Regions from separate parts of the Homo sapiens genome. Here regions 1, 2, 3 and 4 are each reported to be linked to region 5. The links are microRNA targets in miRTarBase. Many come from high-throughput screens and were not tested one by one. Region 5 holds a microRNA gene; each other region holds the end of a gene's coding sequence.

Region 1 (3,212 bases), not on the chromosome of region 5:
AATGCACATCGCCCTGGTGTGTGCCTCGCAACACTCACTGCAGTAGGTTTGTTTTTCCAAAAAGAAATTTAATTTAACCCAAGTGTACACTGTCACACTGTAAACACATGGGGCACCAAAAGGGTGGCTTATTGAATTTAATGCCCTGGCAAAGGTCACCTTTTAGAAAAAGCCAAAAATGGCTGGAATCTTTCCTGATAGCTCTTCAGTCAGGCTTTGGATGCAGGCAGATGTGTTTATTTTTTCAGAGGGAGTTCCTGAGGACCCATCTCAAGTTCAGGCGCTGGGCATCCCCCTCCCATCGCCCTCTTGTGCTCTCAGAGACCTCCCTCCTCCTCCTCCTGGGAGGTCACTGTCCCTGGTCACCCAGGTGGGCCCCTGAGCCAAGCAAACTCCCTAAAGCTGGCGGTCTGGGAGGGAGGGCCTGGGACCCCCACTGCCCGCCCCTCCAGGCTAGAGTGTGTGGTGCTTTTCTTATAACTAACACTGCCTTTCTCTGCCCATTTCCCTCAAAGGATGGCATGAACTGGGTCTGCAAAAATGTCAATGCAAAGAAGAAATAAAATCTAGACGAATGGAGATGCAGGAGCTGCGGGAGCCGAATTCGGTCCTGAAAAACACTAATTTGCTGCTTTCTGACCAAATGTTTTTCCATCTGTGTACAGCTCCAGCTGTTTGAAGAGAGGGAACAACACGGTTTAGAAAGAATCCCCATTCCAGCAGTAGATTTAACTGATCTCTGAGGTTCAGTATCATTTTTCAAATAAAGGAATTATATTATTTCCTCTGCATAATTGAAATAGTATTAAATGTCTCAAAGCACATGATTAGAAAATGAGATCTTTTAAATGAGCAAGAGATTGCATTGCAGTTTAGACAATTCCAGTGGGCTTTTTTTTCCTCTCAAAAAAAAAAAAAGAAAAAGAAAAAGAGGAAGAAGCAGCTTTGCTGAGTTCATTTATTTACTGACCCGTCCCTTGCATTCCCTCCATGGTTTTGAAACCACAGACAGTGTTTGCTGGTGCTGTCAGTGATTTTTACCGTCACTAGCCCAGCCAGGCTTCAGTCTGTCCGACAGGAAGCTGCTGGGTGGGGGTGGGGGGAGAAAAGGCAGATAATTAAACCATCTCATCGTCTTGCAGGTCGGAGACTACGTATGTAATCCTCACTCTTTGGACAGAAAAAAAAAAAAAAGTCTTTCTTGCAGACAAGTCACTACAGAAACATACCCCATCCCACCCACCCCTGCCTCTGCCCCAGCCAGCCACACAGAGAAGCAAATTCTTATGACTTTTGACTGTAATGACATCTGGAATGTAAGGAGAGGTGGGAGGTTTAATTCCAGAAAAATTACAAGGTCCTTAAAAAGCTCTCACATCGAGGGCTCAGGCTAGCGTAAACAGGCTTTCTCCAGCTCAGTGGAGCAGTGAGCAGCCGACTCTGAGATTAGCTGGCTTCTCCACGGCCGTCCTATAGACAGGATTTCTAAAGCTCAAAGAATTCTGTGTTTAAACGATCACAATAGGCCGCTGCTATCAGATTTTAGAAATAAATGCAGCTTTACCATGAACCTGCTCCACTGAGAAAAGCCAGGCAGATCGATTTTTAGATCAATTTTTACAGTGCTGGCAACTTGGTGGTGTGGGATGCTCCTGGATGGAGAGGGTTTGCTGCTGGGGAGGACATGGGTGTGTGTGTGACTGCAGGGGTCGTGTCCAAGGAATCAAGAGTCACCCCAGCTGCTGGGCTCCTCTGCCTCTCTGCAGCAGAATGTCCGTCCTCTGTTGATTGATTGGAGAGGAATAGCAGAACATTTCTCCTGCCCCTCGTTGCAAAACGAGCTTGTTTCCCTGAACCTCAGAAATCCTCAGCTTCAAACATGGGGAAACAGGCCAGAGCATTGCCCGGCTCCTGAATTAAACTCTGTTCTGGTGCCTGAGCTCAGGGGTTTTCAGAGAATGAATAAGAGACTGTCCAGTGACTGGTGGGTCCCTGGGGGCCAGCTGCCTTCTCATCCTGGGAGGTGGCCCTTCCCAAGCCCATCAGGGCGTGTGAGCAGACTGAAGGGGCCGCTGCAGCCCCTGGCCCTCAATACCCAGCTGCTTCTGGCTAAGAGTGCAGCAGAGACTGAGGCATAGCCAGCTTCAAAAGCGATCTGACATGAAAGTCATTAACAAAGCCAGCCGTGAAAAGGTGCCCCAGAGTTGCTGTGGACAGACCTGTAAGGACTTGCAAAACAAAAGAAAGTGAGGGGTTTTTTTAACCTCAGAGCTAGCTGCTCTCTGCAGCCTCCTCCACTGGCTTCTCTGGCTCACCCAAGCTCTCCCTTACAGAGGCAACACAGAATTATAAGGAATCAGAAATCCCCCTTCTACCAGGCTGCAAATGTGGCTCTAGCACTTGCAAATTGTTTTTTCTTCCGAATAGTTCAGCAGGGACAAGTTATCTGAGGGGCAAAATGCCTGCTTGGAGGTCTGCAATTTTGGAACACTGCAGTATGGAACTTTGGCATTGGAGGGTCTGTAAAATATTTTTGTTCTTTTACCACCAACTTAGGGGACTGTTTTAAAGAGCCATCCCAAGGCCTCTCCTAGCAGGCAGAAGCCACTCCTCTGATAACGGCCTCTGTAAATGTTCTGATTTGCTCTCAGCTGCAGAGACACAGAGACACTGCAGATGTCACACGCTTTCATCTTCCCTTTGAGCCCTTTTGAACCCTCCTGGGGCTCTGGGGTAGATGAGAGAAGCCTGAAAAAGGCAGAGTTTGAAAGCTCCCATTTAAAAACAAAATACTTTTTAAAGCCCTCTTGCCTCTTCCCTGCCCACTCCTGCCCCCTGACCAGAAGACAGAATTTGAAGCTGGAAAGGGAAGACCCCTTTTCCCCTCCTCCTGTCCCCAGTGAGTCTTAGCGAGACTTTTGCCCTGCGCACAATTGCATCTGAATGTGCGGGGGAGAGGGCTGGGGGCCGGAGGGCAGGCAAGGCCTGGGGGGTGCTCGTGATATGTGCTCAAGCCAGTTGTGGGAAAAACTCGAGTCCTCCCCTCCTCCCGACCTACCCCGTGTGGCTGCTTTTGGCTGGATTCCCTGCACCCAGTGCAACACACCCTTTCCCCTTCACTCTCCCTTGGTTACTATGGAAACAAGGGTGTCATTGATGTGGGCTGAGCTGGGGAACATGTCGGTGCACAGCTGAAAGTCAGCGATTATGCC
Region 2 (3,196 bases), not on the chromosome of region 5:
CTACCTAAAATTTCAAAGCACCTCCAAGAATGAAAGGGTACTATTTCTGCTTTGCTAATTTACTCCTGCCAGAGCTTCTGTCCTTGAATATGAGGGCTATCTTCACCTATAGTAAATCCCATCTATTAGACAAGACTAGCTAGCTTATGTTTGGTTATGGGGCAAGGGAGTGGGGGAGAGATTCTGTCCTTTCTGGCTATGGCTTCTTTCTGCACAAGCATGCTCAGCCCCCACCCCAGTCTGAAAAGATACACAAAGGGTTTCCTAGGAAGCTACTTATACACTATGACCCTTAAACATAATTTTTGTATTTCATCTTGAATATTCATGTTCCCTATACTGCCTTCAGAAAAGCAATCCCTGGTCCACAAATTATTCATGTAACAAGCATTTTTCAAAAGCAAAATCTGTTAGGAACATTTAAAAATGAACATTCCTCACTATAACAGCCTGCTCAAAACCCAACAACCTATTTCCAGCTGTTAATATAAGTACATAAAGTCACTAAAAGTAAGCGCAGCCACATCAGCAGATTCTCTGCTCTCTTGTCGTCTTTCTCCACCCATCCCAATGCACAACTGTCAACTGTGCTTATAGACCACCTCCAGACCTGATGGGAGCTGCCACACCCCTTTTAACTTTTGCCAGGCTGTACCATGCCCTCTAGTGGTAGGACTAGGACATCACAATTGTGGTGCAGAGTATTAGCCAAGACAGCTCTCAATTAGGGTTGCCTTCTTTAAGATGCTTGACCAAGGTCAATGTACCCTAACAGAAGTAGCCATTGTGTTTCCCAATGGGTAATGACATAAAGCGGGTAGGGTTATCCATGGCCTTTGTTTGGCCCATAGAAATGAAAGGAGGCTTCTGTGTAATTAATTCTTACTAGACTTCTTTTGATCAAATCCTGAATCACCTTGGTTATCTCAGACATGTCAGGTCTGATGAGACATTTCATAGTAGGCGAAGGTGAAATCACTCAGTGAGATTTTAGAGCAGCTTTCTGTATCATCTTGCTTTACATAGCCACTTGGAACATGGACTTGGGAGGGGAGAGTTACCTACGTCATCCTCGAACCTCACTTTCCCCCCCCCTTAACAGTGATAGAAAGACACTTTTAGAATAGCCGCCCCACCTAAAAGGACACTCTAAATTCACCAACAGTGAAAGCCCAGGCCAAACCTGCGTGAAGCTCTTAGCAGCTACAGGCCACCATTATTGGTTGCCATTAACTCTGTCAGCTGAAATCGTCTTCCCATCACCCACAATGTGTGGTTAATGATTTTATATACAGAGTTTACAAAACTGCTGACTAAAAAGCTCATGGCACTCCTATACTCACGCTCTGGAGAGTTGGTAGAAAAAAAGAATGTGTTCTGATAAAACCTCTGATCCTCACTGTTCACATCCATGTAACAGGGCTCGGTCCCCTCAAAATCTCATGATACAGCTTCTGGGAAGGAGTTATTAACCCTGTCACTTCCCAGATTGCTGATACTCACAATGTTTCCATTTGCAGATTCCTGCCAAGAATGATGAGGCAGGATTAGGCCCAACTGGTGCTCTCCCACTAGCTGCTGTATTTACATACACTTCTGTTCATCATCTCTGCCCGTTTCAGGAGTAGCTGAGAGCTTGAATAGGTGGCGGTAAGCTCCCACCACCACCCCATGCCCAGTGCAGCTACCCGCCTGAATGAAGGCAGCTCCTGGGACATGTGAGGTGTGAGGAGTGGGGGGAAGATCCAGGGAAGTCAGCTGCTTTGTATTTGGGTTTGTGGGATGTAATGGCCTTGGCAGGAATGGTGGGGCCTGAACTGGTATCCTGCAGAGAAATGCTTCTATATCCATCTATCACCTCCTTGCCCTCTGTCTTCCCAATGCTAAGCCCATCTGGTCTTCCTTGCATGCTTTTCTATGCTCTGGTGGTAAGTCAAATCCTTTAAGTGAACCCGACATTGGAAACAAATCAGTTTAATTAAAGTCTCTCTGCTGAGATAATGTAGTGACTGCTAGGATTCCAGATATTTAACTAGAATCTAAATAGTCAAGAGTTCTTCCTTTTCTTTCCCTCCTTGGCTGAGAGATTCACTACTCTGTGGGTGGAACTGTGCCATAGGGCCATTCAATTACTCCTAGACTAGCTGTTGGTAACTAGACTGGGAATCATTTCTACACAAGGAATCCTGTGATGGCTGTGCTGCTGTGTGGGGAGAGCTGCCTCCTGGGACATCCATGCAGTGATTCAGAAGGCCACCAGCATGGCTATGTCTGAATCTCGGAAGTGAATAGGTTCCAGCTAACAAATTATCAGCTCTCCTGTAAGTGGAAGCAGCTCTGCAGTCCACCACACATAAGCACAGCGCATGGAAAATGGGAAGACAGCTTCTTCAGGAGCCCAGGATGTAGGAAGGAGCCAGGACTGGAGAGGGGTCCCTTTCTTCCTTCCAATTGGTTCTGCCCCCCAGAAGACACCTGTAGAGACACTGTGCACTACAGGCATGCACTCACGGGAGGCCACGGAGGGTCCCCTTGACAACACACACAAGAGCCCTGTGTGTGTGCACAAATGCCTCTTGTTAACCTGAAAGAAACCGCTACTGAGGGAAAGACTAAGACTTCAAAAGAATTTGCTTTTCCCGCCAACTCGGCACTGTGAAGCCTGCCTTTCAAGGCTTGATGAACTCTAGTCCTCTTGTAAAAGGCTAATGTGTCCATTGCCACTGAAATACAATAATAGCAGCTTAAAATCCACAATTAGTCACACAACCGAACAACAGGCAACGGGATACATGTTACACTGCACAGGAAGGAGACCTACATTGCAGAAGGGGACGCTGTGAGATTCAAGGTGGAACACAAGGTAACAGTTTGATCTGGCTTCAGAAAAGGAGGCCACATATTAACTTTCTCATTTTACTCAAACAGGAGAGTGGTTTGTTTTGCTGGTAATTTAGTAAGGTGGGAAGTCTTAAATAAGAAGGGGAAAGGGAACGCTTACTTCACTTAAAGAACTTAATCTCCGTGTCAACACAGTCATAGAAAAGGTCCCCCACTTCCGCAGGGTCCAGTGGCTCGGAGCTGGTCAGGATTTCTTCCATGGCTTCCAGGCCTTGCTTCTCCAGCTCCAGCATGGTGCTCCTCAGCTTGCGACCTTGCTCCTGAGGAAGGACACGACTGCTTTAGGTGTCAGCAA
Region 3 (3,202 bases), not on the chromosome of region 5:
GACAGTAGACATGTATTATTAATATATCACCCTTACATTTGTTAGAGAAGGCATGATTATTCCTTAACTAAAATTTTGGAGGGTAGAGCTTTCTCCATGAGACAGCAATTTGCAACATTATTGCCTGTTGAGCATACTAATTTGCCCTTCCTAGTTCTTTTTATTTTGCATCTTGGTGATAAAGTTGTAATTTTCATACTGCTGGATAGCACTTAGAATCAGGACTTGTGTCACTATTTATGTAGGTGAAATACATGGCTAATGTTATATACTTCTGATACTTTTATATTTTAAAAGGACGTATCATTTCTCTGAAAAATTGAGGAGGTATACTCAGGCCATTTTAATGCCCAGTTATAAGAAACAGCGAGGTGCTCCCCAACTAAGATTTTTTTTTTTTTTTTTTTTTTTTTTTTTTTTTTTTTTTTTTTTTGAGACAGGGTCTCAACTCTGTAGCCTAGTTTGGAGTGCAGTGGTGCAATCACAGCACACTGCAGCCTTGCTCTCCTGGGCTCAAAGTGATCCTCCCACCAAACACTACCCCCTATCGTTGAAATCCTTAAAAACCAGAATACATCAGATGCTGAAGTGTTATGTCCAGTTTGCCAACAATGCTATTTCTTTGTTGATTCCGTAAGAGCTCTCCCATCCCAGCAATACAAATAAAACAGAATTAAGTTTTCTGTGAAAACAAGTACTGAATAGGGCTGAATGGATAACTTGGTCAATGCTTTCATACAACTTGAAAAATCACTGATTAATTCTCCACTTCTTTCTCTCTTTAGCACTCTTTAGCATGGATTTTTACATGGTAAAGACCTGTGGGAATTATGGAGGGAAGCATGGACATTTGTTATAATTTGGTAAGGCATAATATAGTACTTGAGAAAGACAAATGTGACATTTTTGGAATGTACTCTTTTGTAGTAAGTCGTCATAAATTTCAGCACAAATGAGCTACTGATGATGCTACATTATGGGCTTTTAACAAAAGACCAATAGTTTTTATTATCTCTAGGTTTGATGAACGATTTAATCATCAGTTTAGGTTTCACTAACAAAACATTAGATAATTTGATCTGGGGTACAGTATTTCAACATTTAGTTGGGAAAATTTCAACTACCTAGGTAGTTGAAATATTATTTAAATTATATTAAAGAAATTTAATATAATTGAGAAAAATTAGAGCAAAAAACTCACAAAAGACTTTGTCACCAGAAGTATTTATTCCCAAAAGAATGACATATCTTGAGAACAAAGTAACTTTTGAAATTCATTTTGTGTTTAGGTACCAACAATTGTTAATGACGCTCAGTTCATATTTTCAGAATATCACATTGATAATGGTACTATAATATATCCTGGCCTACCAGAGTTCCATGGATTTAAATAAATAAAATTTAATTCTGCCTTTTATAACATGCAGGGTTGTTTTATGGTTGTTGAGTTTTGTGTGAGTGTGTGTATTTGTGTGTGCCTCTCCTTCTTATTGAAGGATTCAGACAGCTATAATGCTAAAATGTTTTGTGTGTGTGTGCATGTGTGTATTTTTAAAACAATGTCTATACTTCTGCCTCTATTGATGCCATTCTTTTGTTGAACCTGTAAAGGTAAGGCCCAGATTCTGAAACCTGGTTAAAGTCACTAATATTTCTCTGTGAGGCCCCTTGTTAGCTACCAGCCCTCCCCTATCCACACTCCCTATCTTGCTGACATGTGTGTAAGCCCAAATCATCAGTAATCACCTCAAGGCTGATGACCTGTAGGCTTATAATTCCTCAATTAATTTTTATTGCTCTTACAATATTTGTAAGATGAGTGAGAATAGCTATTTGACACCTTAATATATATGTATGGTATATGTTAAGTTTTAGGCTGTAATTTCTTTTAATATACTGACAGTATGATGACACATGAAAAAGCAAAATATCAGTCTGTAATAAGATATAAATTATCCTTTATTAGGTACCCAAATAATCTTTAAAAAGAAGCTAGAATTAAAAAAAAAAAGGATAGCTGCTTTTATGATCAATTTATTAGAAACTACTGTGGCAACTGTTTACAATGTGTTCATTCTTTAGACCTAGTCAAAACTTATTACTAATTATTTTGCTAAATAGAAAAACTTCAAGCCAGTAGGAAATCTCAGTTTTTTAAAAAAATTGCTGTTATTGTATTATTAGTCAGGGTTACTCTGGCAGCAAAGCAAAAATGTTCAGATGCCACTTCTCCTAGCTTTTATGTTTGGCTTTCAGAATGAGCAGTTGGTCATTATCAGTATTATTATAATATGACCAGTTAATAAGTCTGACAAACATTTTCCAACCTGTCATTTTTGAAAAGGAGAGGATATTTTTGATACAGATACACAATATACAAAAAATCCCAGAGCTTGAAATTTCATGCATCCTGTGCCTACAAATAAGAAACTAAACATTAATCTAGTTAGTTATCTATGTGTATAAAGAAAAAAAAGCTGCTAATCAATATTCCTGCTAAAAAATAAATTATTACAAAACATAGGCAACTTCCTCTCTCCATTATAAATGATCAAAAACCGAGGTAAAAATCTAGTGTTTCCCCAATCAATGAAAACAATATATACCAAGTAAATGACTAGTCAAGTCTAGAAGAGAGTAATGCAAAAATGAGCCACTCATATTTTAGGTATAAGTGACAAATATATTTCTCTTTATTACTTTTAAGGTTTTCTCTAATGTCTTTTGGTAGTGGAAGCATTTTATTTGATTCCACTGTTGCTCATGGTTTGAGCCCTACATACTCCCTTCCCTTTCACCTCAAAGGGAACTCCTTTGTATGTAGCCACACACTCATCATTAGTGTGAAGATCAGGCTGGATCTGCTCCCAAATCTTCTTCTTAGGATTCAGCTCCTTGTCAGGCTCTCCTGTGTAGGAGAAAAAAAGCACAAGAAAATTACACAGCTAATATACAAAAATATTAAAGAGACTATTCACAGAGATTTCCAGTGAATTGTTTTGGCAACATTTTCTGATTTTTGGACCTAATCAAACTTTTAACATTTACTTTATTTTTATTATGTCAGCAGTTTATATTCTTGATTGGTAAAATAAAATCGTTGTTGTTTCTTTATGTATATTAAAGATATCATATTTTACTCTTATATTTTATAAGTAATAAAGCTTAATGAATTGTATCCAAATTATCAAAATAATAAAAT
Region 4 (3,000 bases), not on the chromosome of region 5:
CCACTAAGGAAAGGACTTCTGTGTCTTTTTTTCACTGAATAGGCTCTTTCCTGAGTCTCTTGTATTTCCAGCAATAACGAGTTACTCTTGGATATGTTTGCAGATCCCCCTCCACCACAGCAGCAGCCACCGCCACCACCACCTGCAGATGGGGTCCCTCCGCCTCCTGCTCCTGGCCCGCCAGCCTCAGCTGCTCCTTAGCCTGGAAGATGCAGGGAACCTCCACGCCCACCACCATGAGCTGGAGTGGGGATGACAAGACTTGTGTTCCTCAACTTTCTTGGGTTTCTTTCAGGATTTTTCTTCTCACAGCTCCAAGCACGTGTCCCGTGCCTCCCCACTCCTCTTACCACCCCTCTCTCTGACACTTTTTGTGTTGGGTCCTCAGCCAACACTCAAGGGGAAACCTGTAGTGACAGTGTGCCCTGGTCATCCTTAAAATAACCTGCATCTCCCCTGTCCTGGTGTGGGAGTAAGCTGACAGTTTCTCTGCAGGTCCTGTCAACTTTAGCATGCTATGTCTTTACCATTTTTGCTCTCTTGCAGTTTTTTGCTTTGTCTTATGCTTCTATGGATAATGCTATATAATCATTATCTTTTTATCTTTCTGTTATTATTGTTTTAAAGGAGAGCATCCTAAGTTAATAGGAACCAAAAAATAATGATGGGCAGAAGGGGGGGAATAGCCACAGGGGACAAACCTTAAGGCATTATAAGTGACCTTATTTCTGCTTTTCTGAGCTAAGAATGGTGCTGATGGTAAAGTTTGAGACTTTTGCCACACACAAATTTGTGAAAATTAAACGAGATGTGGAAGGAGAACCTCAGTGATTTTATTCCCTAGTGAGGCCTCTGAGGGCCTCCACACTGCCTGGCAGAACATACCACTGAACTAGTATGTGCTAGAGGAGGGCACAAACATCCGCTCCTTCCCTAGGCCTGCTGGCTCTGGTTTTCTATGCAGATGATTCATTGGATTGGGGGTGAGTGTTTTGTTTTTCTGGGGGCAGTGTGAGCTTTGAGGGTTGGAATATTGGGAGGCATTCCTTAGTTTCCTCAACTAGCCTGGAAAGTTAGGAGTCTAGGGTAATTACCCCCAATGAGTCTAGCCTACTATTCACTGCTTTGTGTGCATTTTTTTCTCCCTCTTTAAAAAACCCTTTAAAAGAAAAAAAAAAGTAGATAGTGCTAAATATTTTAGCTCATGAAACTTGGTTAGGATGGCTGGGGGTACAAGTCCCCAAACTACCTCTTGTTACAGTAGCCAGGGAGTGGAATTTCGTCAACCGGTACTTTTAAGGTTAGGATGGGACGGGAAAAGTGAAGCAGGATATTAGCTCCTTATACCTTCTCCCTTCCATTTCTGAGATCTCACATTCCATCTATCACAGGGTTTTCAAAGAGATGCTGAGGGTAACAAGGAACTCACTTGGCAGTCAGAGCATCATGCTTTGAGGTTTGGGGTGCTCAGGCTGGGAGGGTAGAATGCCATTCCAGAGGACAAGCCACAAAAATGCCTTAATTTGAGCTCGTATTTACCCCTGCTGATAAGTGACTTGAGAGTTCCCGGTTTTTTCCTCTTGTCCTTCCCTCCCTTCTGTCCTTCCATGTGTGGGGAAAGGGTGTTTTTGGTAGAGCTTGGTTTCCAAAGCGCCTGGCTTTCTCACTTCACATTCTCAAGTGGCAGTTTCATTATTTAGAATGCAAGGTGGACATCTTTTGGATATCTTTTTCTATATATTTTCTAAAGCTTTACATATGAGAGGGTATAGGGAGGTGTTTATAAAACACTTGAGAACTTTTTTCCTTAATATCAGAAAGCAAAAAAATAAAACCACAATTGAGATTTGCCTTTCAAACCCTCAGGTTTGCCTCTAACCAGGTGTCCCTGGTCACCATCAGAGTACTGGAATACGGGAACCGAGGAGACCTTGGTCCTTTTGTTTTTGTTCTGGACTCTTGGGAGTGGAAATGAGAATGAGTTTATTCCTACTGGAGCTTAGTTCCAATGCATTTGGCTCCAGAAAGACCCCAGTGCCTTTTGACAATGGCCAGGGTTTTACCTACTTCCTGCCAGTCTTTCCCAAAGGAAACTCATTCCAAATACTTCTTTTTTCCCCTGGAGTCCGAGAAGGAAAATGGAATTCTGGTTCATACTGTGGTCCCTTGTAACCTCAGGTCTTTAATGTGATCACTTTCAAATTTAAAAGATCCAGGTGGAAATATTTTTACTATAGTAATAATTCTACAAAATACCTGAATTCTTAACACTGTTATATTTCAGTATAAGTGGTGGCTTTTTCTTTTCATGTCTTTGATCTGGTTTTATTCCTGTAATTCAGCCACCTGATTTTGTGAGGGGGGGGAATAATATGTGGTTTTTGTACAAACATGTTTCTCAGTGTGTTGTTATTTTGGAAAAAATGAGGGGAGGGAGTTTGGCAAGAATGGAGAAAATGAATGAAGAAGGCCTAATCTCTCTCTTTTTCAGTGAATAAATGGAACACCATTTCTGGATTCTAGTCCCATTCTCTGCATTCATACACCAGTTTCTTCATATATCCTATGAAGAACCTAAACATTTGGCCCCACCTGGTCTTGGTTTGATCAGCAGTTAAAATTCTGTGACTCGGGCTTCCTTCCCGACTGCCCACCTTCATGATGTGTAAGGAACATACATTTTGAGGGTACCTCACCCACTGTTCATTTGCATGGTCAAAGTGAAAATGAGTGGAAGTTCTCCAAAAATGATGGCCAACATCCTGGCACCTCCAGGTGTGAGAAATAGCTTTGCTTGGTGAATGGGATAATGTTTGTCAGGATGCAGTTTAGACAGTCCCAAGTTGGAGGCAGGCCTTGAGGGCAGAAGATTCTGTGAACCTTGGGGGACAGCTTTTGGGTACTCACAGATATAAACCCTGTGCAGAAAAAAAGAAGTGATTGTTTTCAGGATGCTTATAAATCGAGTGAAGCAAAAGAAGAGGATTCTGTGTCTGCCAT
Region 5 (3,000 bases):
TTCCCATTAAGGGACAAATCTGTGTCATGCAAACTTTTAAATATTACATCATTCCTGTTTTTCACTTTATTTTGTTGTGGTTGGTAAGAGAGATAGTGTATTTTTTAACTGGTGGTGGAACCCATCTAGATTCCATCTAGGAGGCTATTTCATTTAGTTCAAAAGCATTTTATTGAATTCTTACTGTGTGCCAGGCATTTTAGACATCAAATCCAGAAATGAGGTCTCTCTTCTGGAATTTCATCTAGTTGGCAGGAGTTCAGAATTTATTTTTGGTATTAGGGCAGAATTCTATGAAAGAAATCATAGTGTTGTCTTTCTCTCTGCCTAAAGAAATAATTTCTCCAAAGTGCCCTGTAGGTAGAATGAAAATAACACAGAATTGGCAGACCTCTATAAGGCATTTTCCTATGTGCTAGGCAGAAAAACTAAACTGAGTATTAATTTTTTGGTTAATGTTTTAAAAAGTTTTTTCCCCACTAAAGAAGTAATGTATCACCAGCCCCAGGTTCCCCATCAGCAGCTCTATAAATCTTCCTCCAAAATAAATCTTAAAGCCACATACAAGGCCGGGCACGGTGGCTCACACCTGTAATCCCAACACTTTGGGAGGCCCAGGCGGGCAGATCACGAGGTCAGGAGATCGAGACCATCCTGGCTAACACAGTGAAACCCCATCTCTACTAAAAAAAAAAAAACAAATACAAAAAATTAGCCGGGCGTGATGGTGGGCGCCTGTAGTCCCAGCTACTCAGGAGGCTGAGGCAGGAGAATAGCATGAACCCGGGAGGCAGAGCTTGCAGTGAGCTGAGATGGTGCCACTGCACTCCAGCCTGGGCAACAGAGGGAAACTCTGTCTCAAAAAAAAAAAAAAAAAAAAAGTCACATATTTCTCTCTATGTTAAAAATGATCTCCATTTTACTACTGACTTTCTAGTCCAAACCACCAGTATCCTTTACCTGCACTATTGCCATCTCTTTGTAATTAGCCTCCCTGCATTTCTTTTGCCCACGTTTACAAGCCATATTGCACACAACAGCCAGAGTGACCTTTTTAAAAAAAATCATGGAAATTATCAAAGCTTCAGAAATCAAATAGCATAATTAATTGATGTACCCATCACCCTCCTCCAGAACTTAGCAATAATGGCCACTCTGTATCTCTTCCTACTCCCTGAATTCTTGTGAAACAATTCCAGATATCATGCCATCTCTTTTTCTTTTTAAAAAATTTATTTGTTTTTCTTTTCTTACCCTCTCAACCCAGCTTTTCCCAATTCTGGGAAGAACTGGAAAGAGAAGGCCTGTCATGCCATTTTATTCATACATACCCAGTGCTCCTCAACTTACTGTGGGGCCACGTCCTCATAGAACCATTGTAAATTGAAAATACACTTAAGGCCAGGTACAGTAGCTCACACCTGTAATCCCAGCACTCTGGGATGCTGAGGCTGGCAGATCGCTTGAGCCTAGGAATTTGAGACTAACCTGGTGAAACCCCATTCCTACAAAAAAATACAAAAATTAGCCAGGTGTGATGACACATGACTGCAGTTCCAGCTACCAGGGAGGCTGAGGTGAGAGGATCACTTGAGCCCAAGAGGTCGAGGCTGTGGTGAGCTGTGATAGTTGAAAAACCATTAAGTTGAACTGTTGTAAGTTGGGGAACATCTGTAGTCCAGTATATTAGTAAAAAATAAGGACACCCTTTAACAAAAACCACAAGCATGTGATAGTTGCACAACTCTGTGCACCTATAAAAACCATTGAATTTGTGCAGTTTAAGTGAGTAAATTGTATGTTAATTTGTATCTCAATGGGGCTATTAAAAAACATAAGCACAATAGCATTATCCTATTAATAATATTCTAGTAATTTATCAAAATCATGGAACTGCCAAAGTTTGTGTTTTCCCAGTTATTATTATTATTCTTTTCTTTTCTTTTTTTTTTTTTTTTTGAGACGAAGTCTTGCTCTTGTTCCCCAGGCTGGAGTGCAATGGCGCGATCTCAGCTCACTGCAACTCCGCCTCTCAGGTTCAAGTGATTCTCCTGCCTCAGTCTCCAGAGTAGCTGGGATTACAGGTGCCTGCCACCACACCCAGCTAATTTTTGTATTTTTAGTAGAGATGGGGGTTTCACCATGTTGGCCAGGCTGGTCTCGAACTCCTGACCTAAGGTGATCTGCCCACCTCGGCCTCCCAAAGTGCTGGGATTACAGGCATGCGTCACTGCACCCGGCCTATATTATAATTTTTTAACACTTTGACAGAGTTTTAAACATGAGTCAGATCATGTTACTCTTACTTAAAACCCTTCAGTGGCTTTTCATCCTATTTAGAATAAAACTCAAACTCCTTATGCTGGCTTACAAAAGTCTGGCCTACAAACCCCTTGTGTGATGTGGCCTCTGCGTGCCTCTCTGACTTTATCTCTTGCCTGCTGAATTGTTCCTACCTCAGAGCCTTTGCATCAGCTGTTCCTCTGCTAGAATGTCCTTCCCTGTATTTTCACAAGGCTGGATCCTTCTTTTCAACCTAGACATCCCTTCCTCAAAGAGGCCTTCCCTGATCAACCCCTCATCCTCCAATCTAAAGTGGTATCCCAGTTACTCTGTCAAATCATTTATTTAAAAAGTCTGGGCGTACCGTGGTTCATTGTCTGCTGTATCTTTAAGAATTAATTTATCATCTGTCTTTCCCACCTTCTATGCTTTCCCATCCCCCCAGTATTTTTTCTGTTATGTTCACTGCTGAATCCTCAGTGCCTAAAATAGTAATCGGTACATAACAGACCCTCATTAGGGGATATCATACAAAAAAATTGCCAACACATACCAGATGTTTGGTATTTATAAAAATATTATTATTTTAAACCACCCCCAGCCCCCCTTTTTGTTTTTAGAGACAGAGTCTCACTCTGTCACCCAGTCTGGAGTGCAGTGGTAGCTGGGACTGTAGGCACATGCCACCGTGCCTGGCTAATTAAATTTTTTTTTTTT

Evidence for each region. The annotated mature microRNA hsa-miR-320c reads AAAAGCUGGGUUGAGAGGGU and lies in region 5 at 1,253-1,272, opposite strand. An mRNA with a match to its seed (bases 2 to 7 or 8) in the 3' UTR can be bound and repressed. Matches are read on the target gene's strand: a 7mer-m8 pairs with bases 2 to 8, a 7mer-A1 pairs with bases 2 to 7 and ends in A, and an 8mer does both.
Region 1: the mRNA of ARL3 is a reported target of hsa-miR-320c. Seed matches in the 3' UTR shown: 7mer-m8 at 941-947 and 8mer at 1,556-1,563.
Region 2: the mRNA of SCRN1 is a reported target of hsa-miR-320c. The part of its 3' UTR that is shown has no 7-base or 8-base seed match.
Region 3: the mRNA of AIMP1 is a reported target of hsa-miR-320c. Seed matches in the 3' UTR shown: 7mer-m8 at 2,474-2,480.
Region 4: miRTarBase lists SMARCC1 as a target of hsa-miR-320c. Seed matches in the 3' UTR shown: 7mer-A1 at 1,749-1,755 and 7mer-m8 at 2,890-2,896.

Annotation. Positions count from the first base shown.
Region 1 is chr10:102,674,245-102,677,456 of GRCh38, reverse strand. It overlaps ARL3 (ARF like GTPase 3), which reads left to right. Exons shown (of 6, transcript NM_004311.4): 6 at 516-3,212. The coding sequence ends at 563. Among named protein-coding and RNA genes, the nearest start is that of TRIM8, 31 kb to the right of the region's middle. RefSeq lists an enhancer at 3,103-3,212.
Region 2 is chr7:29,920,955-29,924,150 of GRCh38, forward strand. It overlaps SCRN1 (secernin 1), which reads right to left. Exons shown (of 8, transcript NM_014766.5): 8 at 1-3,161. The coding sequence ends at 3,003. Among named protein-coding and RNA genes, the nearest start is that of FKBP14-AS1, 66 kb to the right of the region's middle.
Region 3 is chr4:106,347,232-106,350,433 of GRCh38, reverse strand. It overlaps AIMP1 (aminoacyl tRNA synthetase complex interacting multifunctional protein 1), which reads right to left. Exons shown (of 7, transcript NM_001142416.2): 7 at 978-2,908. The coding sequence ends at 2,742. Among named protein-coding and RNA genes, the nearest start is that of GIMD1, 20 kb to the left of the region's middle.
Region 4 is chr3:47,585,410-47,588,409 of GRCh38, reverse strand. SMARCC1 (SWI/SNF related BAF chromatin remodeling complex subunit C1) reads left to right here. Exons shown (of 28, transcript NM_003074.4): 28 at 104-3,000. The coding sequence ends at 201. Among named protein-coding and RNA genes, the nearest start is that of CSPG5, 8.0 kb to the right of the region's middle.
Region 5 is chr18:24,319,988-24,322,987 of GRCh38, reverse strand. MIR320C2 (microRNA 320c-2) reads right to left here and starts at 1,313; the gene lies at 1,242-1,313. All of the region lies in intron 7 of OSBPL1A (oxysterol binding protein like 1A), which reads left to right.